Linked DNA regions of Homo sapiens. The protein of the gene in region 1 interacts with the protein of each later gene in a pairwise test. Each region holds a gene or a part of one and is shown in the gene's direction. Other genes may lie near its edges. The genes, in order: NCBP1, POLDIP3, BNIP2 and RNF20.

Evidence for each region.
Region 2: the proteins of NCBP1 (region 1) and POLDIP3 interact in binary tests that used the Homo sapiens proteins (3 or more experiments, as listed by UniProt).
Region 3: the proteins of NCBP1 (region 1) and BNIP2 interact in a two-hybrid assay, tested with the Homo sapiens proteins (one study listed by BioGRID).
Region 4: the proteins of NCBP1 (region 1) and RNF20 interact in binary tests that used the Homo sapiens proteins (3 or more experiments, as listed by UniProt).

The regions. Positions count from the first base shown.
Region 1 is NC_000009.12:97,643,804-97,650,013, forward strand, and holds part of NCBP1 (nuclear cap-binding protein subunit 1), read left to right. Parts: intron 1-1,313; coding exon 1,314-1,421; intron 1,422-1,807; coding exon 1,808-1,929; intron 1,930-3,688; coding exon 3,689-3,758; intron 3,759-4,204; coding exon 4,205-4,420; intron 4,421-6,210. UniProt on the Homo sapiens protein: Component of the cap-binding complex (CBC), which binds cotranscriptionally to the 5'-cap of pre-mRNAs and is involved in various processes such as pre-mRNA splicing, translation regulation, nonsense-mediated mRNA decay, RNA-mediated gene silencing (RNAi) by microRNAs (miRNAs) and mRNA export.
Region 2 is NC_000022.11:42,589,772-42,595,981, reverse strand, and holds part of POLDIP3 (polymerase delta-interacting protein 3), read left to right. Parts: intron 1-367; coding exon 368-445; intron 446-3,897; coding exon 3,898-4,027; intron 4,028-6,210. UniProt on the Homo sapiens protein: Is involved in regulation of translation. Is preferentially associated with CBC-bound spliced mRNA-protein complexes during the pioneer round of mRNA translation. Contributes to enhanced translational efficiency of spliced over nonspliced mRNAs.
Region 3 is NC_000015.10:59,660,875-59,666,921, reverse strand, and holds part of BNIP2 (BCL2/adenovirus E1B 19 kDa protein-interacting protein 2), read left to right. Parts: intron 1-2,801; coding exon 2,802-2,853; 3' UTR 2,854-6,047.
Region 4 is NC_000009.12:101,542,251-101,548,460, forward strand, and holds part of RNF20 (E3 ubiquitin-protein ligase BRE1A), read left to right. Parts: intron 1-2,516; coding exon 2,517-2,635; intron 2,636-4,569; coding exon 4,570-4,716; intron 4,717-4,886; coding exon 4,887-4,964; intron 4,965-5,148; coding exon 5,149-5,268; intron 5,269-6,210. UniProt on the Homo sapiens protein: Component of the RNF20/40 E3 ubiquitin-protein ligase complex that mediates monoubiquitination of 'Lys-120' of histone H2B (H2BK120ub1).

The DNA.
Region 1 (6,210 bases):
CAGGGCCTCTAGCATAGTTTATGCCTTCCTCCAGATGTTCTTAATAGCCTCTTAACTGATCTTTTTGCATCTAGATTCTCTGCTTTTCACTTTGTGTTCTACAGTGGCACCAGACTGGTCTTTCTATAACTAGGCTCTGCACATGTTGGTTACTGGTTAAAAAAACCTTAGTTCCTTCCCATTGTCTACAGTGAGTGGTCTTAAAAGCCTGGTGCACAAGATGATTCCTTGGGTTTCAGGAAGTGAATATTAAGAACTCTTATTTATCTTAAGTGGAAATGAAATTAAACCTTACTAATAATACATAGATTAATGGTGATCCAGTGTATATCATAAATACATATGTATGTGTTGAAGATATGTGATCAAATTCTTTTTTACTGAGTACACAATCAAAAAAGTTTGGACACCCATCAGGCTATAGGATTAAAGTCCAGACTCTTTAGCCTGACCCTTTATGGTTTCCCCAGTCTGTTTCTCTATTCTTGTCTCCCATATGCTCCCCAGCAATATCAAAATAACTTGCAGATCCCTAAACACACCTTGTTTTTGAACCTCTATGCCTAGACTGCCCTCCTTGCTCACTACTTGAGGCTGTTGCTATCCTTTATGACCTAGCCTAATTGTTACCTCCTTTGTGATGCTTTCCCCAACTCCCTTTGTCATTGTTCCTAAAAAATGCTTAATTTGCCTTTTAGTGTGGGAGTCATTCCTTTGTATTGAGATTGTGCTTGTTCCACTAGAATGGGTCCCCTAACAGTGACTTTTAGTAGTGTTTAGCAATAGCACACTAAGCACACCCAATAAATATGTGTTCTGTAATTTCCATTTCTGTAATTCAGTGAAAATTACAGCCAAACAGAAAAGGAGATTATAGGTTGAAGTAGCTAGAATATTTTACAATCTGGATTCTTGATGTAGTATAGCATAGAAACGTATGAACTCACAGATTACTGTCCTTTATATAGTCTTTGTTACAACTTCTCAATTCTGCCATTGTAGCACAAAAGCAACCATAGACAATATGTAACTGAATGAGCGTGGCTATTCCACTAAGTTTACTTATGGGCACTGAAACTTGAATTTCATGTAATTTGTATATGTCATAAAATACTCTTGATTTTTTTTTCACGCATTTAAAAATGTAAAAACCATTTTTAGTTCCCAGCTATGCAAAAAACAGGTAGTAGGCTAGATTCAGCCCTTAGGCTATAGTTTTTTAGACCAATAGTTTAGCCTATACAAGATTGCTTATTTTGTAGTTATTATAAAGAACATTTAGGTTTAATAGCAGAAATTGTTTGCCCCAACAGGTCCGTTTTTTATCTGATCTTGTGAATTGTCATGTGATTGCCGCCCCATCAATGGTTGCTATGTTTGAAAATTTTGTAAGCGTAACTCAGGAAGAAGATGTACCTCAGGTAAGAGAACCCCTCATGCTGAATCTTGAGGGGTTCTTGAGGGGTTACTGAATCCTGGTACTTCCATATAGTACCAGGAATTTTTCGCTGATAACCCATTAGCAATAAAGAAAAAAATAACAGCAGACTATCACACTTTAAGTTCTTACTATCTAAAAATTAAGCTGACTGGCACACTGGTGGGTTCTCATAATATCTGTATGTTGATTTAAATGATGCTGTCTAGTAAGATTAGAACTAATATATCTAGAAATGCTCTGTATAAACCAGATGTCTTATTTAAGTCCTATTAAATAGCTTCCATAGGATTTCATTCAAGAATAAATAAAATATGAATGAATATAATTAAAGCATATTTTAAACTTAACTTTTTAAAAATCCTTTAGGTGCGACGAGATTGGTATGTGTATGCATTTCTGTCATCTTTGCCCTGGGTTGGAAAGGAGTTGTACGAAAAGAAAGATGCAGAGATGGACCGCATCTTTGCCAACACTGAAAGCTATCTTAAGTAAGGGCACAGCTCATAGTACTCTTTGTTGCTTAGGTAAAGGATATCTTATATCAGTGATACCATTTGAGTTTCTCAAAAATAAGCTGTAGAGTTCCTGAAGGTATTTTCTAGGTAATCCTGTTCTCCTGCTGTTTTAACTCACTGAGACCTCAAAGTAGTCAGATATGGTTTGCTTACTTTTGCCAGTGCAAAGGACAGTTGGCAATATAGCTTCTTTTAAGCTGCTTTTATATGTTTGTTTATAAAAGACATAAAACACCCTAGTGCAATAGTTCCTCAAATATTAGTGTGGATAAGAATTACCTGTGGTACTTAAAATACTCAGACCCCAACCCCCAGACCTGATAAATTATACAATTTGAGAGAGAGGTTTGGACATCTGTATTATTAACACATTTCACAAGTGGAGAACCACTGTCCTAGCACATACAGTATATTTAGTTCATGTAAATTAATCTTAAATCAAGCTCTTAAAACAGTGGTCCTTAACCCTCCATCCAGCCAGTACTTCTTAAGTAATATGACACATTTCAATTAAAATAGTCACATGTCTTCCCATTACTCATCTCTCCTAAGCCAATGTAAAAGCTTGGTTTATATTGTTAGATACAATAATAATAAATAGGTCTTTTTAGTAAATTTATGCTTAACTATCCAGCAACATGGTAATGGTTATGTGGCCCTTAGGTTTTTACAGATTGATTTTGTTGTTAAGTTTCATTTTCTCTTTTTTAAGTGCTTTTTTTGGATAACTGTTAATAGCTACTTAGTTGGTTATTAAGTAAAGTTAAAAGAAGCTTAAAAAATAAGAATCTTTTGGCCGGGCGCAGTGGCTCACGCCTGTAATCCCAGCACTTTAGGAGGCCAAGGCAGGTGGATCACCCGAGGTCAGGAGTTTGAGACCAGCCTGGCCAACATGGTGAAAACCCATCTCTACTAAAAAATACAAAAATTAGCCGAGCGTGGTGGTGGGTGCCTGTAATCCCAGCTACTCGGGAGGCTGAGGCAGGAGAATTGCTTGAACCCAGGAGACGGAGGTTGCAGTGAGCCGACATGGTGCCGCCACTGCACTCCAGCCTGGGCAACAGAGTGAGACTCCGTCTCAAAAAAAAAAAAAAAAAAAAAAAGAATCGTGTGTGTGTGTATACATATCCTTTCTCTTTTTTATTCAAATGATAGCCCAATATACACACTGTTCTTCACTTGGCTTTTTTTTTTTTTCTTACTATAACTTGGATTTGTTGCATAAAAATACTTAACTCTACTTCATTCTTTTTAACAGTTGTAGGGTATTTCACTTTTTAATGTACCATGATTTCCGTAGTCTCCTGTTGGTGGACGTTTAGGTTATTTTCAATCTTTTGCTCTTATAAACAATGTTTCAGTGAATATCTTTGTGTATATGTTTTTATGTACATGTGCAAATATATTTATGGGGGATATAAATTTTTAGAAATGGCATTGCCGAGTTGAGGGTTCTAAACAATTTTGATAGATTTAGTCAAATTACCTTCCAAAGAGATTATACTTTCCCAAAGAGATTATATCAGTTAACCTCTTTGTCAACAATGTTTGAGACTGAATCTTGACCTGCATCTTGATGATACACAGTACATTATCAAAACAGTTGATATCTGCCACTCCAGTAGGTAAAATGTTATTTCATTGCTTTAATTTGCATTTTAATAACTGTGAGGGTGACTGAGCATCTCTTGTTTTTAAAAGCCTAAATGTAGATTTTCATTTTTATCTTTAGAAGACGCCAAAAGACTCATGTACCCATGTTACAGGTATGGACTGCTGATAAACCACATCCACAAGAAGAGGTAAATGGATTTCAGTCCCTTGTGATACAAACACAGTCAGCTCTTGAATAGATTCTTATCTCTGTAAGATACTCAGACCATTCCATTTTACCCTTTGACTGTGTTTCTACATTTCATGATAGTTCCTTCTCATAGCTCAAGGTGTATGGTAGGTCTTTAATAGATGATAGAATGTAATTGAAATATTCCCTTGTTCTTTGGAATGCCAGCTATTACAGAGTTGACATATATTTATTTAAATGCTTAATTTGAAAAATGTCAAAACAGACAGTTCCAAACAGGTAGACTTTGTAAGTAAAATAAAAACAAAAACTTAGCACCTTTTTTTGTACCATCTTACAAGTTAGCTTACTTTTGTATCCTGTATTTTAAAGGGTAGTGATTTTTTCATTTTGTCTAGTCAAAATGTTAATTATATTAATGATTAAAAATTAATCTGTCTTTAGTATTTAGATTGCCTGTGGGCCCAGATTCAGAAATTGAAAAAGGATCGCTGGCAGGAACGGCACATCCTAAGACCTTATCTTGCCTTTGACAGCATCCTGTGTGAAGCACTGCAGCACAATCTGCCTCCTTTTACACCACCTCCTCACACTGAAGATTCAGTGTACCCAATGCCAAGGGTCATCTTCAGAATGTTTGATTACACAGATGATCCCGAGGTAAGTGACCGACTAAAAGTCCTAGATATTGACCTGTGTTGCATTGTGCTTGTGGGTTAATCCCGCTTGAATTATGCCTGTGGTATGTTTTAATTTTGAGTTGTTTTTATCTAAGAAGGTCAGTAGCAATGAAGTTAACTTTTTAATTCAGTGAATGATATCACCTCATTATGCAAGAAATTATATTTGGCATGTGTAAATAGATTACAGAGACGTGCACAGTTTGCAGGCTAAGAGTGTGGGTTTTGGGTTTTTAGAGCTACGTTGGTTTGTGTTTTAATCTTGGTTTAGCCAAATACTAGCTGTGTTAATTTGGGAAGGTTATTTACCTCCCTGTGCTTTCATTTCCTGAAGGTAATAATAATAGTATACATCTCATAATAGTAGTATATATCTCATGTTATGAGGATTAAATTATTCACATGTAAAATGCATAGAACAAGAACAGTGTCTGTCACATGATGAATGCTCAGTCATTCTGGCAATTTTTCTTTCTTATTTTTTTCTTTTCGAAATGGGGTCTTACTTTGTTGCCCAGGCTGCAGGTGAGATCTAAGCTCACTGCAACCTCTGCCTCCTGTGCTCAAGCGATCCTTCCACTTCAGCCTCCTGAGTAGCTGGGACCACAGGCATGTGTCACCTAGCCTGGCAAATTTTTTGTAGAGTTGAGATTTCGCCATGTTGCCCTGGTTGGTCTCAAACTCCTGGGCTCAAGCAATTCGTCCGCTTCGTTTTCCCAAAGTGTTGGGCTTACAGGCATGAGCCACTGCACCTGTCCATAATTATACTTAATAAGGTTATTTCTCAGTAAAAGTACCTAGTTTTAGGTATGGTCCCTCTCTAGGCAACACAGCCTGTCTTGTGATTATTCATATTGTATGATTATTTGAAAACAAATGTTGGAAGTATTTTTAATTAAAAAATTCCAAAGATTAGTCTAAGCTGACTTTATCATTTTTAATATACATGTTCTTTATTTCAAAGTCAAGTTTCCTGGCAGCCATTGTACTGTTATAATTGTATATTGTACAATTAAGAAAATTTATAATTTTCATTGTGGGTACTATCCTGTGTATTGTAAGATGCTCAGCGGTGTCCCTGATCTCTACCCTCTAAATGTCAATAGCACTCTCCCTGCCTCAGTTTTGACAACCAAAAATATCTCCAGAGAGTGCAATATGTCCCCTCAAGAGCAAAATTGCCCCCAGTTGAAAACTATTGCCATAAAAATTAATATTACCACCTAAGTCAAATTTGAGTTTCTTCTATTGTCTCTTTTCTGTTCTATGGTAAAGTGCTAATGACCAGTAGGAATTTAGTATATATGTAATCTATTTTGGAATAAAAATTTCTCAGATAATCAGTTACATATACAAAATTATCAGCTTGCTGCCGTCTTTGCTATATTCCATATGTAACCAAATACTTTAGTCAAAATTATGTAATGATCTACTTAGATATGTCTAACTGAAAATCTGGTTTACATTTAAGACTGCTAATGTTTGTGGTCGGGTATTTTTTTTTTTTTGTGCAGGGGAAACTAGAATGGGACCTCAAAATTTGTTTCTCCTGAATTTGTATTTAATTGGTATCACCTCTGTAAGGTGCATATCCATCCCTTGCTAGAAGAGTATAAATATATAAAATACATATTACTCCCAAAACGAACAGGATTTTGTTTCTGTTCTGGCCTTTTACAAGTTGTTTATTAAAAAACATTAGAAATTGTAAAAAAAAGATTAGAATCATCCAAAAGTCATTATTAAAGGTTTATTTTGTGTGTTTTGAAC
Region 2 (6,210 bases), on another chromosome or scaffold:
CTGGTGATATGTTAGACTCTCTCAGAAGAAAGCTATTAGGAGGGCTGAGGACAGATTATCTCATTCCAGTTGGGAAGTCTGGGAAAAAGGGCTCTTTTAGCTGAGTGGGTCTGGAAGCATGAGTAGCCTTCCAGGTAGAGGCTCAGGGCCTGAGAGGCTTGCGTATTTGGGAGATGGGAGAGGGTCCATGCTTTTAGCATAGAGTGATGGGGGGTGTAGTGGACACTGAAGTTCAGGGGGCCCATTTGTGGTAACTCTCCATGGAGCTTTCCTCTGGGCCTTCCTAGTCACGTGCCTGGAGGAATTTCTGTTGTGGGAATGCTTATCAGCCATCTGGCTTCTGGTAATGCTCTTGTCTGTGTGGCAGCCTGTTCTCAGCCCATTGGAAGGCACCAAGATGACTGTGAATAATCTGCACCCTCGAGTCACTGAGGAGGACATTGTTGTAAGTACTGTGACCTACCAAACATTTAAATCTCAAACTGCCTCTGTGGCAAAGGTCTCTTAAGACCCACCCTCAGGTTTGATGACTGCTAGGACTCACCAGACTCAGCATATAGTCACGCTCAGGGCTGAGACTAATGACAGCAAAAGGATGCAGAGCAAATGGCTCATGGGGTGAAGTCGGGGGGAAACGAGGCACAAGCCTCCAGAGGCCCCTCCCAGCAGAGTCGCACAGGATGCTGGGTGCAACTCGCAGCAAGTTGTGACAATACATGTGACACCAGGGAAGCTCATTAAAGACTCAGTACCCAAAGGTTTTACTGGGGGCTGGTCACTTCGGCATTCTCTGTGTAGCATGTACTAAAATTCCAGACTCCCAGAGGGAAAGCAGCTGTTGAGCAGAAACCATGTTGTTTGCACAGTCCAGGCACAGTGAACTGTGGGGTGGCAGGAGCCCTCCTGAGATCCGAGTTCTCAGATGCCAGCCAAGGGCCACCCCTGGAATCGGACCTTTCAAACAATAGCAGTCAGCCCAGCTGCTTCACTCTTCTGCACAGCTTCTAGCCAAGGCCAGGTGCCTGGCCTGAATCTCAGAGTCAGGGGATATCTATGCTATAATGGGTCCTAAATGGGATCCTTTAGTCCCACTGGGCAGTATCCAATAGTTGTGTTTTCCTGTGTCCTTTGGAGGTATTACAAGATGATTCCAAAGTGAAAGAAGTGAGATGGATTGGTGGTATCCACCTTCCTGGTCCATCCCGTCCCACCCATGGCAGTCATGGGCAAAACCTGTCAAATGTCTGTGAGCGGGGTTCTGGATGCAGCTAGGACTTCTTTTCAACATCATTTTCATTCAGGCACCCAAAAGAGCCATTAGTTTAGAAATCCAGGCATCCTTTGAACTGTCAGATCACAAAATGAATACGTTTGGAGAATCCAGCCTCTCCCTGCAGTTAAGTCCCAGACTAACAGACTGCACTGGTCACTACATTTGTTAAATCTTTTTGTTTTGTTTTGTTTTGTTTTTGAGATGGAGTCTCACTCTGTCACCCAAGCTAGAGTGTAATGGTGTGATCTCGGTTCACTGCAACCTCTGCCTCCCAGGCTCTAGCAATTCTCCTGCCTCAGCCTCCCGAGTAGCTGGGATTAGAGGCGCCTGCCACTACGCCTGGCTAATTTTTGTATTTTCAGTAGAGGCAGGGTTTCACCATGTTGGCCAGGCTGGTCTCGAACTCGTGACCTCAAATGATCCACCCACCTCGATTTGTTTTTTTTAAAGATGGAGTCTTGCTCTGTCGCCCAGGCTGGAGTGCCAGTAGTGCGATCTTGGCTCACTGCAACTTCCGCCTCCTGGGTTCAAGTGATTCTTATGCCTCAGCCTCCCTGGTAGCTGGGATTATAGGCGTGTGCCACCACACCCGGCTAATTTTTGTATTTTTCAGTAGAGACGAGGTTTCACCATGTTGGCCGTGTTGGTCTTGAACTCCTGACCTCATGATCTGCCTGTCTTGGCCTCCCAAAGTGCTGGTATTACAGGTGTGAGCCACTGTGCCCAGCTGAGGTTAAATCTTAATTGTGAAACACACGCATGCCGTGAGATGGGTCACTCGTATCTCCTTCTCCTTTAGCAGGGACAGTACTGTGAATGGTGCACGTGAGGATGGAAATTGTAGCCTATTTTGTGTAATACTTGACAAGTCATTAAGAATTAAAGCTGATTGCCGGGTGCAGTGGCTCACGCCTGTAATCCCAGCACTTTGGGAGGCCAAGGTTGGTGGATCACCTGAGGTCAGGAGTTCGAGACCAGCCTGGCCAACATGGCAAAACCCTGTCTCTACTAAAAACAGAAAAATTCGCCAGGCGTGGTGGCACGTGCCTGTAGTCCCAGCTACTCAGGAGGCTAAGGCAGGAGAATCACTTAGAACCTGGGAGGTGAAAGTTGCAGTGAGCCGAGGTCACGCCATTGCACTCCAGCCTGGGTGACAGAGTGAGACTCTCTCAAAAAAAGAAAAGAATTAAAGCTGTTAAGGAGCGTAATAACAACTGCCATTTACTGAGTACTTGCTATGTGCCAGTCACTTTAGGCAGACTCTTGGAAGATACATAATGGTGGAAAACTAAACACCAGTCATGATCAGTGCTCAGGGGAAATTGCTAGTAATAATCACCCTCGCTTCTCTTCTACCCAAATAGGCAATGTTAAAAGGACAATGGTAATAAAATTGGAATTACACCTACTATTTATAGTTGGCCCTCCATATCTGTCGGTTCTGCATCTGTGGATTTAGCCAACCACTGAATGAAAATACTCAAATTTTTAAAAATAACAGTATGATGAGAAATAATACAAATTTTAGAAATACAGTATAACTATTTATATAGCATTTACATTGTATTTGGTATTATAAGTAATCTAGAGATGATTTAAAGTATAGTGGATGATGTGCATAGGTTATGTGTAAATACTACAGCATTTTATAGCAGGGACTTGAGCATCTACAGATTTTAGTATCTGCGAGCGGTTCTGGAACCAGTCTCCTGCAGGTGCAGAGGGGCATCTTGTTTTGATATTTACCATTAAAAACAAACCATGTCAAGGACCTTTTCATAAACCTTCTTTTGGCCCTCACAGCAACCTTGTGAAGGCAGTTGCAGGTGAAGAAATGGCGTGAGTGCTAGTCAGCCTCTGTCCATCTTCACATTTTGCTCCCTCTCTGGCCTTAGTCGTCTTGTCTGTAAAATGAGGTGGAGATCGGACTCAATGATGTGTGCAAAGCACTGCCTTAAAAATTATCTCAGTTGAGCTTTCCAGTAAAGCTGGGAAGTAAGCTAGTCCTTTTTATTTTCAGAGGAGGAAACAGGCTCAGAGAAGTTAAGTAATTTGCTAGACGTCTCATAGCAGATAGAAAGCAGAGCCTGGGGGATCAAACTCAGGTCTGACTTAGAGTGACCAACTGTCCCTGTTTTGCTGGGGACTCTCCTGGTTTCATCACTCAAAGTCTCATGTCCAGGGAAACCCTTCAGTCCAGCCAAACCAGGACTCTGGGTAGAACTCCAGAATTTGTATTTGTAACAGATTCTCAGGTGACATATTAGCAGCTGTCTTTCTTTGTATACATGTATTCTAATGACAGGGCTCTTTGCGAAAATTTTCATAACTGTTTTATCCCTGTTGAGGTGGGCACTGAAGACTTTGGTGGTGGCTTGCTGGGAGATCCCAGGTGATCCAAGGCTTGTAAACCCAGCCCCTTTCCCACTGCTGACCTCATCTGGTGCTGTGTTGAAGCCTGTGGATGTCTCCAGAGCACCACCTCGCGTGGAGCCTCCCCGCAGTCTCAGGCGCAGGGCGCATTTAGCTGCAGCGGAACCACCACACCCCAGGGCCTTCAGAGTGTGTGAGCGGCAGGTGCTGAGAAATCCTTCCCCAATCCCAACCCCTCTTGTTGTGTGCAGGAGCTTTTCTGTGTGTGTGGGGCCCTCAAGCGAGCTCGACTGGTCCATCCTGGGGTAGCGGAGGTGGTGTTTGTGAAAAAGGACGATGCCATCACCGCATATAAGAAGTACAACAACCGGTGTCTGGACGGTAAGTTAGGGAGAAAGCAGTCCCCTGACCCTCCCACTCATCTCTACTTGCTGTCAGGTAGCAGGCCTTCCAGGGGAAGTCTCTGTGAGATGGGTGGAACCCATCTCTGGGGCCTCGTCTGCACCAGGAACTGCCGTGCAGTCTCTGAGTAGTCCTGAGCTGTGGGTTACACAGGGCCCTGGATTTTCACCCAGCCCTTAAGCTTTTGAGCCCAGCAAAAAGGAAAACAGCATTTCTCCATGGATGGTTCTCTTAAGGGGTCTTGCCAGGGGAGCCAAGAGGCACAGCTGTTGCCTCCCAGATGTTGATCTGTTTAGTGCTAGGGCAGAAGTTCCTCCCAGCCCTGGAGTTTTGTCTGAATGTTGACACCTGGGTGAGAGCTGCTCCTGGTGGGTAAACAACAGACTTTATTGACTTGAGGTTCATATTTTTCATCTCCAGACAGCCTGTAGAGAAGAATTCTGTCTGCCATGCTCCTTTTCCACTCATTTGTTCTTTCAGTATGTATTGAGTGCCTACTGTGGACCAAGGCCCTGTGCTAGAAGTGGAGAAGCAGAGACTAATAAAACAATACAACAATAAAAAAAATTACAAATAAAAGACCTGGAGCCTTGGCTAAATCTTGGCACCTGGGTGAACTCCCCTGGGTGAGTCAGTGGAGTTCTGATTTGCATTTCCCCATGGCTAATGATGTTGAGCACCTTTTCATGTGCTTATTGGCCATTTGTATGTCATTAAAGAAATTAATTTTGTTTTGAATTTCTGTTCTTTTTTTGTTTTTTCTTATTTTTTGTCATATGTTTGGATGTGGAAAGATACTTATTTTCCTTTTTCTTTCTTTTTTTTATTTTTATTTTTTATTATTTTTTTATTTTTTTATTTTTTTTGAGTTTCTCTCTGTTGCCCAGGCTGGGGTGCAGTGGCGTGATCTCAGCTCACTGCAACCTCCGCCTCCCCGGTTCAAGCGGCTTTCCTGCCTCAGCCTCCCAAGTAGCTGGGACTACAGGTGCACGCCACCAAGCCCAGCTAATTTTTTTGTATTTTTAGTAGAGATAGGGTTTCACCATGTTGGCCGGGCTGGTCTCAAACTCCTGACCTCAGGTGATCTGCCCACCTCGGCCTCTCAAAAGTGCTAGGATTATAGGCATGAGCCACTGTGCCCAGCTATCTTTGGAGAAATGCCTGTACAGAATCTTTGTCTGCTTTTTAAATACTGAGTTGTAGAAGTACTTTACATATTCTTAAGTCCCTTATCAGATAAGTGATTTACCAATATTTTCTCCCATTCTGTAGGTTTATTTCTGCTTTTTAATGTATTCATATGCAGTATAAGGACTTTTTGGTTAACAGCAGACCACATATATGACAGTGGGCCCATAACATTATAATACCATATTTTTACTGTATTTTTTCTACGTTTAGATGTACAAATACAGTTGCCTACTCTACTCAGTAGAGTAACATGCTGTACAGCCGGGTGTGGTGGCTGAAGCCTGTAATTCCAGCACTTTGGGAGGCTGAGGCAGGAGGATCGCTTGAGCCTAGAAACTTGAGACCAACCTGTGCAACGTGGCAAGACCCTGTCTCAAAAAATAAATTAGCTGGGCGCGTGGTGGCGTGTGCCTGTAGTCCCAGATGCTGGGGAGGCTGAGGTGGGAGGATCACTTGAGCCTGGGAAGTTGAGGCTGTAGTGAGCTGTGATCGTGCCACTGCACTCTGGAATGTATTCCCATGGTTAAATGATACATGACTGTATGTGCATTTACAGCTATATATTCTAAGCATGGCTGTAACTGCATTCCGTGTTTTGGTATATCATGCCTTCATTTTCATTCATCTTGAATTATTTTCTAATCTCCCTTGTGATTTCTCCTTTGACCCATTGGTTATTTAGGATTGTTTCAATTTCCATATATTCATGAATTTTCCAGATTTTCTTTTCTTCTATGAGTGTTTAAGGAAAATATGTATTTTCTTGTTGTTAGGTGGAATGTTCTGTACATGTCTATTATGTCTTGTTGCTTTGTAATGTTTAAGTGCGTTTCATTGTTGATCTGCTTGGTTCTATCTAGTATTGAAAGTGAAATACTGAGGTTCTGTTTTTTTTTTTTGATACGGAGTCTCCCTCTGTCACCCAGGCTGGAGTGCAGTGGCATGATCTCAGCTCACTGCAACCTCTGCCT
Region 3 (6,047 bases), on another chromosome or scaffold:
GTAATTTAGACATCAGAAAAAATATGGAATTTGTACTTTTTATTTAAATATATTGTTTGAAACCTGTCACTATTTTATCTTGATTTTTTTTTTACTTGTGTTTAACCATAAATAGAATGATTACATGTATCTTTCAAAAACGTTCTGTTTTTTGTAGTTTCTTTAGTCTTAAAAAATAATAAATTTTTGTCAATCTGAAAATGATAAAATTTAATTTTTAAATTAAATTTAGGTAGAGAGGCATGTTTTGTTTTGAGACAGAGTTTCACTCTTGTCACCCAGGCAGGAGTGCAATGGCCCAGTCTCAGCTAACTGCAATCTCTGCCTCCCGGGTTCAAGCGATTCTGCTGCCTCAGCCCCCCAAGTAGCTGGGATTACAGGCACCCACCACCATGCCTGGCTAATTTTTGCATTTTTAGTAGAGACTGGGTTTCACCATGTTGGCCAGGATGGTCTCGAACTCCTGATCTCAAGTGATCCACCCACCTCGGCCTCCCAAAGTGCTGGGATTACAGGCGTCAGCTACCACGCCCAGCCTAAACCAAACTTTACAGAAGCTAGGTGCAAGGGAGCTTATTTAAGGTGACAACTGCATGATATGATAAGTAGTGGTGCTAAGAAGAGTATGAAGCTATGAGTCCCTATGGCAGGTTTTTGGGGAGCAGGGGAAGAAGGGGCAAAACCATTTTCTTGAGGGGCTTGTGGGGAAGAGGGTTGAAGAAATGTTGACAACAGGGAGATCCAGTGTCCCCAGTGACAGAAAAAGGATAGCAGTTTAAATGTTTAAAATGTTTCTTTCAAACAACTGGATGCAAGTGTGGCCATGCAGATACAGATTGTTAAAATGTTTCAGGGGAGTTTAAAAATAATTATGAAATTAGTTGGTAAGGATATTTCAGATGTTAAGAGGATTTGATATATTTTGCATGCCTTATCAGAAATACATTCCAAATTTTTTATAACAATATTTTAAATATTTTAAAATGTTACTTTGGCTTTACCACAGACCAGGGCTTTTAGGTCTGTTTCACTAATATTCAGGTGGGCATAGTAATGGGTGATGAGAATAAAAACATATGAAAAATATTTTTCTTTATCTAATACCGGATTGTTTTAAAGGTCCCTTCATCAGTTATTCAGACCACTACAAATGTAATAGTAATAGACTGTTAGCTTTGAAGGGTTGTCTGTAATTATTATGTGGTAATTATGTAATCCTTCTAATGCCCACATGCGTAAATTTTGATATGACTGATGTCCAACCCACCACTAAATAAATAAGCTTTTTGATGGGTTTTTGTTTTGTTTTTTTGAGACAGGGTCTTGCTCTGTCACCCAGGCTGGAGTGCAGTGGTGCAGTCTCGGTTCACTGTCGCCTCCGTCTCCAGGGCTCAAGCAATCCTTCCACCTCAGCCTTCTGAGTAGCTGGGACTACAAGTGCACACTACCACACCTGGCTAATTTTTGTATTTTTTGTAGAGACGGAGTTTTGCCATGTTGCCCAGGCTGGTCTCAAACTCCTGGTCAAGCAGTCCGCCCGCCTCGGCCTTCCAAAGTGCTGGGATCATAGGTGTAAGCCACTGTGTCTAGCCAATAATTAATTTATATTAGATATTTTTGAATGTTAAATTCTTTTTTTTTATTTTATTTATTTTTTTAAGACGGAGTCTCACTCTGTCACCCAGTCTGGAGTGCAATGGCATGGTCTCAGCTCACTGCAAGCTCTGCCTCCTGGGTTCAAGCGGTTCTCCTACCTCAGCCTCCCAAGTAGCTGGGACTACAGACGCGTACCACCACACCTGGCTAATTTTTGTATTTTTAGTAGAGATGGGGTTTCACTGTGTTGGCCAGGCTGGTCTCGAACTCCTGACCTCGTGATCCACCCGCCTAGGCCTCCCAAAGTGCTGGGATTACAGGCGTGAGCCACGGCATCCGGCCTTGAATGTTAAATTCTTAAGGCTTCTTACTGTCAAAACAAATTTAAGGCATTCACAAACTGTGTACCAATAAGTTTTGGAGAATAATTATGGGTTCTATAAGGATGCATTTTTTATCACTGAATTTTAAAATATTGATTGATAATTGGTGGCCTTCATGGCATTTTCATATTTTAGTTAACAGAATCATTTTTGAGGGAGTTGTTTTTCCTGCCATTTTCGTACCACCTGGATCCCTACCACAGCCAAGTTACAGGTCAAGATTTTAATATGCCATGTAATTTGAACTTTTAAGAAAGTTTATGGCTGGGCACGGTGGCTCACGCCTGTAATCCCAGCACTTTGGGAGGCTGAGGCAGGCAGATCACGAGGTCAGGAGATCGAGACCATCCTGGCTAACATGGTGAAACCCCACCTCTACTAAAAATACGAAAAATTAGCCGGGCATGGTGGCGGGCGCCTGTAGTCCCAGCAACTCGGGAGGCTGAGGCAGGACAATGGTGTGAACCCAGGAGGCGGAGATTGCAGCGAGCTGAGATTGTGCCACTGCACTCCAGCCTGGGTGACAGAGCAAGACTCCGTCTCAAAAATAAGAAAAAAAAAAAGTTTATATGCATTTGTATGTAAAGTATTTTATAATCTTTAAAGAAACAACGGTCACATTTCTTGCCAGTGTCCTCCTGCCTTTAAAAATTCTCTTTTCTGGTTGGGGAAATGATGTTTGGTAACTGTTTTTACTATGTCTGCTTCTTTGCAAAGCTTTGTCTTTAACAGAGTAATATTCTATGCTAAAATAGTCATTATTTTTAGAAAGAAAATTGTTCAGTTGCTGGTTTCTTATTTTATATATTCTTCATTAAACAGAGTTGATCAAGAACTTAATGGAAAACAAGATGAACCGAAAAATGAACAGTAAGTTTGGCATCTAGTCCAAACAAGACTGAAGAATGTGCTGATGGAGCAGTGCTGTTTCTGCATTCATAATGCATTTATTGGCCCATATTTTTATGTAACCTGTTACAAAATAGACTTGACTTTTTCATAATGGACTTTTGTATTATACAAGGGACTGTTCACTGCTGTACTGGTTTGCAAATTTCTTGAATTTAGCTCTTTAATAGCTAACTGTATTATTATCGTTTTATATTTTATATTGCTAAATAGAGAACCACACTTTATATAAAGTAGTTTTTGCATTTGTTTATTGAATGATGCATCTTCTTCGGTGAAATATTTATATGCATAAATGGCAAAGGAAAGAAATAATATATATTTTTATGTCATTGAGCAATATTTTTTAATGTGTACCTGTCTTATGGAAGAAATATGCAGGTATATAAGACCACGATTTTCTAAAGTGCATATTAGAATTTTTGTTTTTGTAAATGGTTAAATACATTTCCTGGGTAACTTAGGAAATTAAGTTTTTCATAAGGCAACAGATGGTTAAACTGATTGTCATGAATACCCAAAGATCATGTATATAATCGAAGTGTATTAGTACCATCCCAAGGTTTTTTTCTCATTTAACATATTTGTTTCATAATTCAGCAAGTACAGATGCAAGCGCATTGCACACTTTTTCCTTTCTAAACTTAAAGACAAGTCAAAAAGCCATTCTTAGAACTAGAGGATTTAAGAGGGTAGGAATTAGGGTTTGTATATATGTATATATGGGACATTTTATCTTCTGGCCCAAAGTCAGAACTTTATAAAAATCTTGAGTTTGTTCACTAATGTGAAATAAGCTATGTGTCCAGGGTATTGCTCCCCTGAGTGTATATGAGTGCTGAGTAGTATTGCAGAGAATGTGATGAGTTATTCACTGTCACAACTTTTTCTATAGAAAACAGGGGCTGCTTTTTAAACTCTCACTATGGGCACTTTACCAAAATACTTCCATATCAATTATTTGAACTCGGTAGTTGTTTGACCTAGTTAGATGTGGTGTTTATTCAAGTTTGTATGAAATCATGTTTGACAATACTGTAAATTAGGTTAATTTTGTAAGTCTTAGCATCATCATATTGTGCTGTTTTGGATAACACGTTTGTTACAAGCATTTAAACTGTTTCATTTGGTAGTACCTTTACATTGAAATAAATTGTGTTTGTGCCTCCAAACAAAAAGTTTAATTACCGACAAAATTATTTCTAAAACAACAGATTGATCTGATATTGTGTCATATACTTGAAAGGCTCATACACAGCTGGTAAGCATAATACCTTCCAAATTTGAAGGTCATGGCTACTCTTCAACCCTTCCTGTAAGGTATTTTACAAAACAGTGGCCTAGAGTAGCAAAATTGAAGTGGATGTGAGCTAACCTTTCAAGATTTAGTCTATCCTAGATTGAACACACATGTGGCTGTGACCATTCTCATGTACTTACAAACCTTCTGTTACAAAAGGGAACTTTCCTATATTTTTTGTCCTCCTCAGTCCTAAACTTGGCATGCTAACTTAAAACCAGTTATAGGAGAGAGATGCTGGAGGATTCCCAGGATGAAACATTCCTCAGCAGCCTCCTGACTTAACTCAGATCCAGCAGCTCTTGGCAGATCCTGAACTAATGTCATTACAGTGAATTGAGCCAAAACGATTATTGCTTGCTCACATTTTAGGAACACTTGTTGTTGAAGAAGCAAACTAACAATAACAAGTTAGGCATTCCTTCTGAATTTACCATATAAGGATTATGTATAAACAATTATATTGAATTTGTCATTAGATTCTATATTTGTAGACGATTTAACGTAGTCTTTCATCTGTACATCTTTATCTTGCTCAAAATGGGCTGAGGTTTTTAATAGGTGGTTTTCTACCACATTAAGTACTTGGTTCTTCAGTTTAAAAAATATGAAGAATAACTTCAACTCTTTTTTGCATTATTTTGATTTTTGATTTTGCAGTCATTGCTCCTAACTGTAGATACATGTTGCAAAAGTGATGTTTTTCTGAATTTTTTTTAAAAGTAGAAGACTATTCTGTTAAACATTAAAATTCAGAGACAACAGTGATAACACCTGGGATATAATGAAAATGAGGTGCTGTGAATCAGTAAACTAAAGGGATACCTGCTTTAACCTGCACCTTAATGGAATCTGGTATAGAGATGTACCCACAATAAATGTTTTATAAGATTTAAGATCATAATAGTAGGTTAGAGGAAGAGCATTTATTAAGTCTGTTGTTTCTAATCTATAGCTAAGTTAACATTTCCCATATTATTCCATTTTAATTTCCCATTACTGACCAAGGTGAAAGTATATGTGATTGTACTTTTATCTTTCTGTTGGGATCATGGATCTAATTTAACTGGCTTAATTTGATGCTTCTGTCACTAGGCTCTAAGTGCCCCTTTTTTAGTCAGAAGTTTTTCATGTGAAATAATTTGATTCTGTGTTCTGCTTGATCATACTCCTAAGCAAGCACCAAGGGAAGACGTTCTATTCACCCCACAATTTAAGCTTAACAATCTTTAACTCAGAGGGAGATATGAAGAAATATGATTCTAAGTAGGGTCTAGCAGAGGCATTGGAAAGTGATAAAAGTAGGAAGTAAGAGAAAGCAAACCTTTATAAAGAGATAAAGACATAGTTGTTACCTAAGATGCCACTGTATGTGTGCCCTCTCTTTTTTTTTTTTTTTTTTTGGAGACAGAGACTCACTCTGTCACCCATTCTGGAGTGCAGTGGCGCAATCCTGGCTCACTGCAACCTCTGCCTCCCGGGTTCAAGCATTTCTCCTGCCTCAGCCTCCTGAGTAGCTGGGATTACAGGCACACGCCACAATGCCCGGCTAATTTTTGTATTTTTAGTAGAGACGGGGTTTCGCCATGCTAGGCTGGTCTCGAACTCCTGACCTCATGATCTGCCTGTCTCAGCCTCCCAAATGCTTGGATTACAGGCTTGAGCCACCACGCCCGGCCATGTGTGTCCTTTTAAGGGAAGTACCATATGTGACTGCTGATGGTAACATTTCTTGTATGCAGCAGGAAAACCTGCAGGCTATACGCAAGGTATGTGAATAAAGACTGTGGATTGAAGGGGGAAAAGTTGATAATACATACCCATGATAAGAATTCATATTTTCTCTTTCTTTGTCTCTT
Region 4 (6,210 bases), 3.9 Mb from region 1:
TCTGTATTTTATTATAAGGAAAACAGATACTTGTTTAAAAATATACAAGTCAGAAATACAAATAAGTAGACTACAAAAGTTTCCCCATTCTCATTTCTCAAAAGATAACCATTCTAAACAATGTGTTTTATGTCCTCTCAGACTTTTGTACTTTTGTATTAATATCTTACATCTACTTGCATGTCCCCAGCTAAACTGTGTCTTGGTTCAGTAGTTTGGCTCACTCTTCTTTGTTTCTCTAGTTTCTAGCACTGCATCTGGCATCTAGCAGATGTTTAGTCAATGGGGAATGAATGGATGTGAACCTCCCTGTCACCTAATATAAAATAATGGTGCTTTGTGTGTGCACATATGCTTCTTTCTCCTTGGGCTCTAATTGAATAGTTAGAAGGTATTGTTAAATTTTAGTAATATGGTAATTAATATGCCATGTGCATAGACTATGTTAAACTTGATTTCATAAATGAATATCAAGTGAAACAATTGTTTTATTTAAAAAGGGAATAAAATGAGTAGTATATCAAACGACTTTAAAATTACTATTTAATGGCATGCATTTTAAGGTCGGGTTTAAGTTAAAAAGTAGAAACATTACAAATAGCCATGCCATTATTTGTAACACAAAAGGCAATTGCCATTGGTAAGCTGAACTTTCTAAGAGATAAAGATGTATAAAGTATGAATTATAGCATCAGTTGTAACTTGTTTGAAAGTTCATCCCCCTGACTTAGACTGAAAATTGACATTCCTCAAATTCCTAGGACATCATCAATACAGTAGTTTCTACTTCCCCATTCCCTGTGGAATTTCTACCACGCCATTCCTCAATAACACTATACAGTCTTTTATATTTAGGGTAATTCATTATTTGGAGGTTTGGAGTTGTGTTGTGTTTTACAAAATCCCCTATGATATGATAGGCCTTCTAGAGTAAGGTAAGGCCTTCTAGAGCAAGTATAGGCCTTATAGAGTAAGGTCTATAAATTCATCTAACCCTGCCAGAGCGGCACTGTCTAACCTGCCACGGCAGTACTGTCTAACCGTGCCAGGGCGGCACTGTCTAACCCTTCCAGGGCGGCACTGTCTAACCCTTCCAGGGCGGCACTGTCTAACCCTGCCAGGGCGGCACTGTCTAACCTGCCAGAGCGGCACTGTCTAACCTGCCAGAGCGGCACTGTCTAACTCTGCCAGGGCGGCACTGTCTAACCTGCCAAGGCAGCACTGTCTAACCCTGCCAGGGTGGCACTGTCTAACCCTGCCACTGCAGTACTGTCCAACCCTGCCAGAGCGGAACTGTCTAACCTGCCAGGGCGGCACTGTCTAACCTGCCAGAGCGGCACTGTCTAACCCTGCCAGGGCGGCACTGTCTAACCTGCCAGGGCAGTACTGTCTGTTTGTTTGGTCTTTGATTCAAAAGAATTGCATTTATGGGCTTGTTTATAAATTCACTAAACATTTATTGAATTTTATTGTATTCTAGCCCTGTCCTCAGTGCTTAGGATATTGAGAGGACTAAAATTCAGTCTCTACTTCTTAACTCAGGTTATGAATCAGAATAACCTTGGGAGTTTTCTGAGCATATTCTTATTTTTGGCTTTGCCCATGGAGGTTCTTATTAAGTAGGTATGAGATAGGTCCTAGGGAAATGTCTATTTTAAAAGTTCCACAAGTGATTCTGATGGGCAAGCCTAGCTTGAAAACCATGAAAACCACCATATGACCAACCTGTTCTGTATTGATACTAAGAGTAATGCCAAGAGGTGATATGAGAAAGCATATTTTTCTTCCTGATAACTCTCTTTGATGGGTGGTATATATCCTGAGAGTATCTGGTTTCATTTAATTACATTTGGATTTCAGCTATAGTATTTGCAACTCTAATTTTAAACATACGAACTTGGTGTAATAAGTTCTATGGATTTACCTACCTGCTTTGTAAATAGTAGTGTACATTTTGGTTTTTAAGCTTCAGAAGTGCCCCTAACATAGTATTTCAGAATATATGATATGAGAATATGTGATAAGAGCATATGATTCTTGCTTTGTTATTCAGGCTGGTCTTGAACTCCTGGCCTCAAGTGATCGGCCTGCCTTGGCTTCCCAAGGTGCTAGGATTACAGCGTGAGCTGCTATACCTGGCCAAGGATACACAGTTTTAAAATTTGACACTATAGGCCAGGCACGGTGGCTCACACCTGTAATCCCAGCACTTTGGGAGGCTGAGGTGGGTGGATCACCTGAGGTCAGGAGTTTGAGACCAGCCTGTCCGACATGGTGAAACCCCATCTCTACTAAAAATACAAAAATCATCCGGGTGTGGTGGCATGTGCCTGTAATCCCAGCTACTCTGGAGGCTGAGGCAGGAGAATCGGCTCGAACCCTGGAGGCAGAGGTTGCAGTGAGCCGAGATCGCGCCACTGTACTCCAGCCTGGGCGATAGAGCAAGACTCCGTCTTAAAAAAAAAAAAAAAATGACACTCTAGATGCTAAATTAAAGTATAGTTCTTCTTCCCCAGATAATCTGATAGTGGAGGAAGCAGTGCAGGAGCTGAACTCTTTCCTCGCACAGGAGAATATGAGGCTACAGGAATTGACAGATCTTCTTCAGGAAAAGCATCGCACCATGTCTCAGGAGGTACTTAACCAAAAAGGAGAGATGGCTGTGTCTAGTGGGCTGTGGCAGATGTTGACTTACAATTCTGAGCACCTCAAAGATTACCTTACTCTAGAAGGCCTATCATATCATAGGGGATTTTGTAAAACACAACACAACTCCAAACCTCCAAATAATGAATTACCCTAAATATAAAAGACTGTATAGTGTTATTGAGGAATGGCGTGGTAGAAATTCCACAGGGAATGGGGAAGTAGAAACTACTGTATTGATGATGTCCTAGGAATTTGAGGAATGTCAATTTTCAGTCTAAACTTGGGTGCAAATAATGCCATGATTAAACCATGCCAAGATTTGGACATTTATTTATTTACACAAAATGATCAAGATAAAGTGATGATAGGCCTTAAATGACTTTTCTGATACTTCTGATGATCATTTTGATTTAGTTCAAAATATATTCTACTGGAATTTGCCCCACCTTAGTTTGGCCACTGAATTCTTATGCTAATTAGTAATTTAGTAGTTGCCATTTACTTAGTGCCTAGAATTTAAGCACTTTATGAATGTTATCTCTAATGGCAAAACAACTCCCATTTTATTGCCAAAGAAACAAATTCAAAGAGGTTAGTGATTATTCTGAGGGCACATAGCTAGAAAGTGATTGAGCTGTGTTGTGACTGTAGGTCTGTTTGACTTCAAAGCTCTTGTTCTTCATATGCCTTTGTTTACTAAACCCCAGTGTTAAGGTCCATGCTGGCCTGGTTGCATGAATATCATCTGGGGAATTTATTAATTCATATGGATTATCCTGGACCTTCAAAGGGGTTAGAATGTAGTAGCCCTTATAAATAAACTGGAGTCTAGTAAGAAAATAGAATATTTTTATCATGTTTTAAGACATTGACTAGGTGCTACCAAGATGGAGAGGTCTTCCTTTTCTAGCCCTTTGACAAATCTCAGATAGTATTACTAACCTGGAGGGCAGTTGTTTGCTAAACTGTGATGTCCTTGTTGGCTCTCATGGCTGGCTGTTGATGCTGCCTGTCAGCTGGGTTAATTGTCTACTGGGATACCTGCAGTTTGCCTCTCCATCATGGTAGTCTCAGGATGGTTGGAATTTTTACATGTTGGCTGACTTCTTCCAGTGAGCATCCCAAGATCACCAGGTAGAACCTTCATGGCCTTTCTGATATAGCCTCAAAATTGTGTAGTGACATTTCCATTGGGTCTCTAAAGTTGACCCAGATTCAAGAGGAGGGAACAAAGATCCCACCTCTTGTTCAGAGGACTTTCAAAGGATTTTTGTGTCATGTTTTAAAACCTAGCACAAAGGGTATATATAGATTAATGTGAACTTGTAATAGTTTAGTAGTTAAAATACTAAATAGTGTTAGCTGGTGTATAGCTCCTAAATAGAGTATCTGACTTTAGATTATAGTATAATCTATACTGTATTGTATCTGACTCTAGATTGCTCTGGGGTGAGCTTAAAAAAGAGTATGGAAGTTTTCTTTTGTTGTGAATGAATGGATTACCTTTTGTGGGACTGTGGAGAGAAATTTGGGGGTAAAAATGGTTTTTTTGAAAAAATATTTATCTTACAAAACAAAAGATACTATTTATTATCTCTTAAAAAATTACAAAATTTTTATGAGTTTGTGGTCTGTCCAGAGAAATGGTGCTTTTCAGAGGTAGAAAAATTGTTGAATCTTAGGTGGTCTTTTCTTTGTGTGAGAGTTCTTATAGACTTTAGACTTAAAGTTTGCATGATTATAACTGACACAGAATTGTTGGAGGAATCCGTGATTTCATTTTTGTAATCATGCATTGGGAAGAGGGTGAAGCATCTTCTATTTGCCTCTTTTCTATAATTACTCATAAGCAAGGGTTAATATTATGGAATTTGGTCTTTTTTTGCTATATGTTTCTGAATGTTTGTCTTTGGGATGTAGTTCTCCAAGTTGCAGAGTAAAGTGGAGACAGCCGAATCACGAGTGTCTGTCCTGGAGTCCATGATTGATGACCTGCAGTGGGATATTGACAAAATTCGAAAGAGGGAACAGCGACTCAACCGACACTTAGCAGAAGTCCTAGAACGGGTCAGTGCTGTTTTATGGCTTGGAGACTAGAATCATTTTAAGGAGTGTTCTCAGGAAGACTCACCTTGGGGCATGGTATTTGAGGAAAAAATCTCATCCTTTGAAGGTACATTGGTTATAGACTGAAATCTTAAGAGTCTCTCACTAAAGAATCTTTGTGTTCTCTGTAGGTGAATTCCAAAGGTTATAAGGTGTATGGAGCGGGGAGCAGTCTGTATGGCGGCACAATCACTATCAATGCTCGGAAGGTAAAATCAGTGACTCAGGACATGTTTTGGACTGTATGTCAGCTTTCATGCTTAGGTACTTAGGACTGTGTTCACAAGTGACATCATGGGGTTTTGCTGGAATAGCGAATCAGTGAAGAAAGGAAGCTTAGAAATGATTTAAGAAGAATACTTATTTATTCTCTATTTTTCTGCTTCTCTGCAGTTTGAGGAAATGAATGCAGAGCTTGAGGAGAACAAAGAGTTGGCTCAGAACCGTCTCTGTGAGCTGGAGAAACTTCGGCAAGACTTTGAGGAGGTCACTACACAAAATGAAAAGCTGAAGGTAGGAACGCATCCCTGAAGGGCAGTAAAATCAGACGTTCTGCTGATCAACTCACGTATATACATAGTTGTGAATCTGCGTATTCATGAGGGATAAGAAAAATGTAGACAAAATCCAACATCCTTTTATGATAAAACTCTTAACAAATTAGGTGTAAAGAAGTGTACCTCAACATAATAAAGGCCATATAAAACAAGCCCACAGCCAACATTATACCCAATGGCGAAAAGTTGAAAGCTTTTCCTTTAAGATCAGGAACAGGATAAAGATGCTCGCTGTCATTACTTTTGTCCTAGCCAGAGTAATTAGGCAAGGATAAGAAATAAAGGCCTCTTAATCAGAAAGGAAGAGGTAAAGTTGTTTCTGTTTATAGATGACATGACTTTATATATAGAAAACCTTACAGGCTCCACGAAAAAACTGTTAGAACTATAAATGAATTCAGTAAAGTTGCAGGCTACAGAATCAACATACAAAAACAATTGTGTGTCTATATACCAACAACAAACTCTATAAAAAAGAAATTAAGAAAACAATCCCATTTACAATACCATTAAAAAAAATTGTGAATAACCTTAACCAGGGAGATGAAAGAACTGTACACTGAATGGATAAAGAAATGTGGTGTGTGTTTGTATGTGAGTGTGTGTGTGTATATGTGCAACAGCATGGATATATTTAGAGGACATTATGCTAACTGAAATAAACCAAGCACGGAAAGGCAAATACTGCATGATCTCACTTGTATGTGGGATCTAAAAAAGTCAAAATCTTGGAAGCAGAGTGTAGAATGGTGGTTACCAGGGTTGGGGAAATCGGAAGATGTTGGGGAAAAGGTACAAAGTTTTAGTTATGCAGGATGAATAAGTTCTGGTGATGTGTAGCATGGTGACTATAATTAATGCTGTATTGTGTACTTGAAATATGCTAAGAGTAGATCTT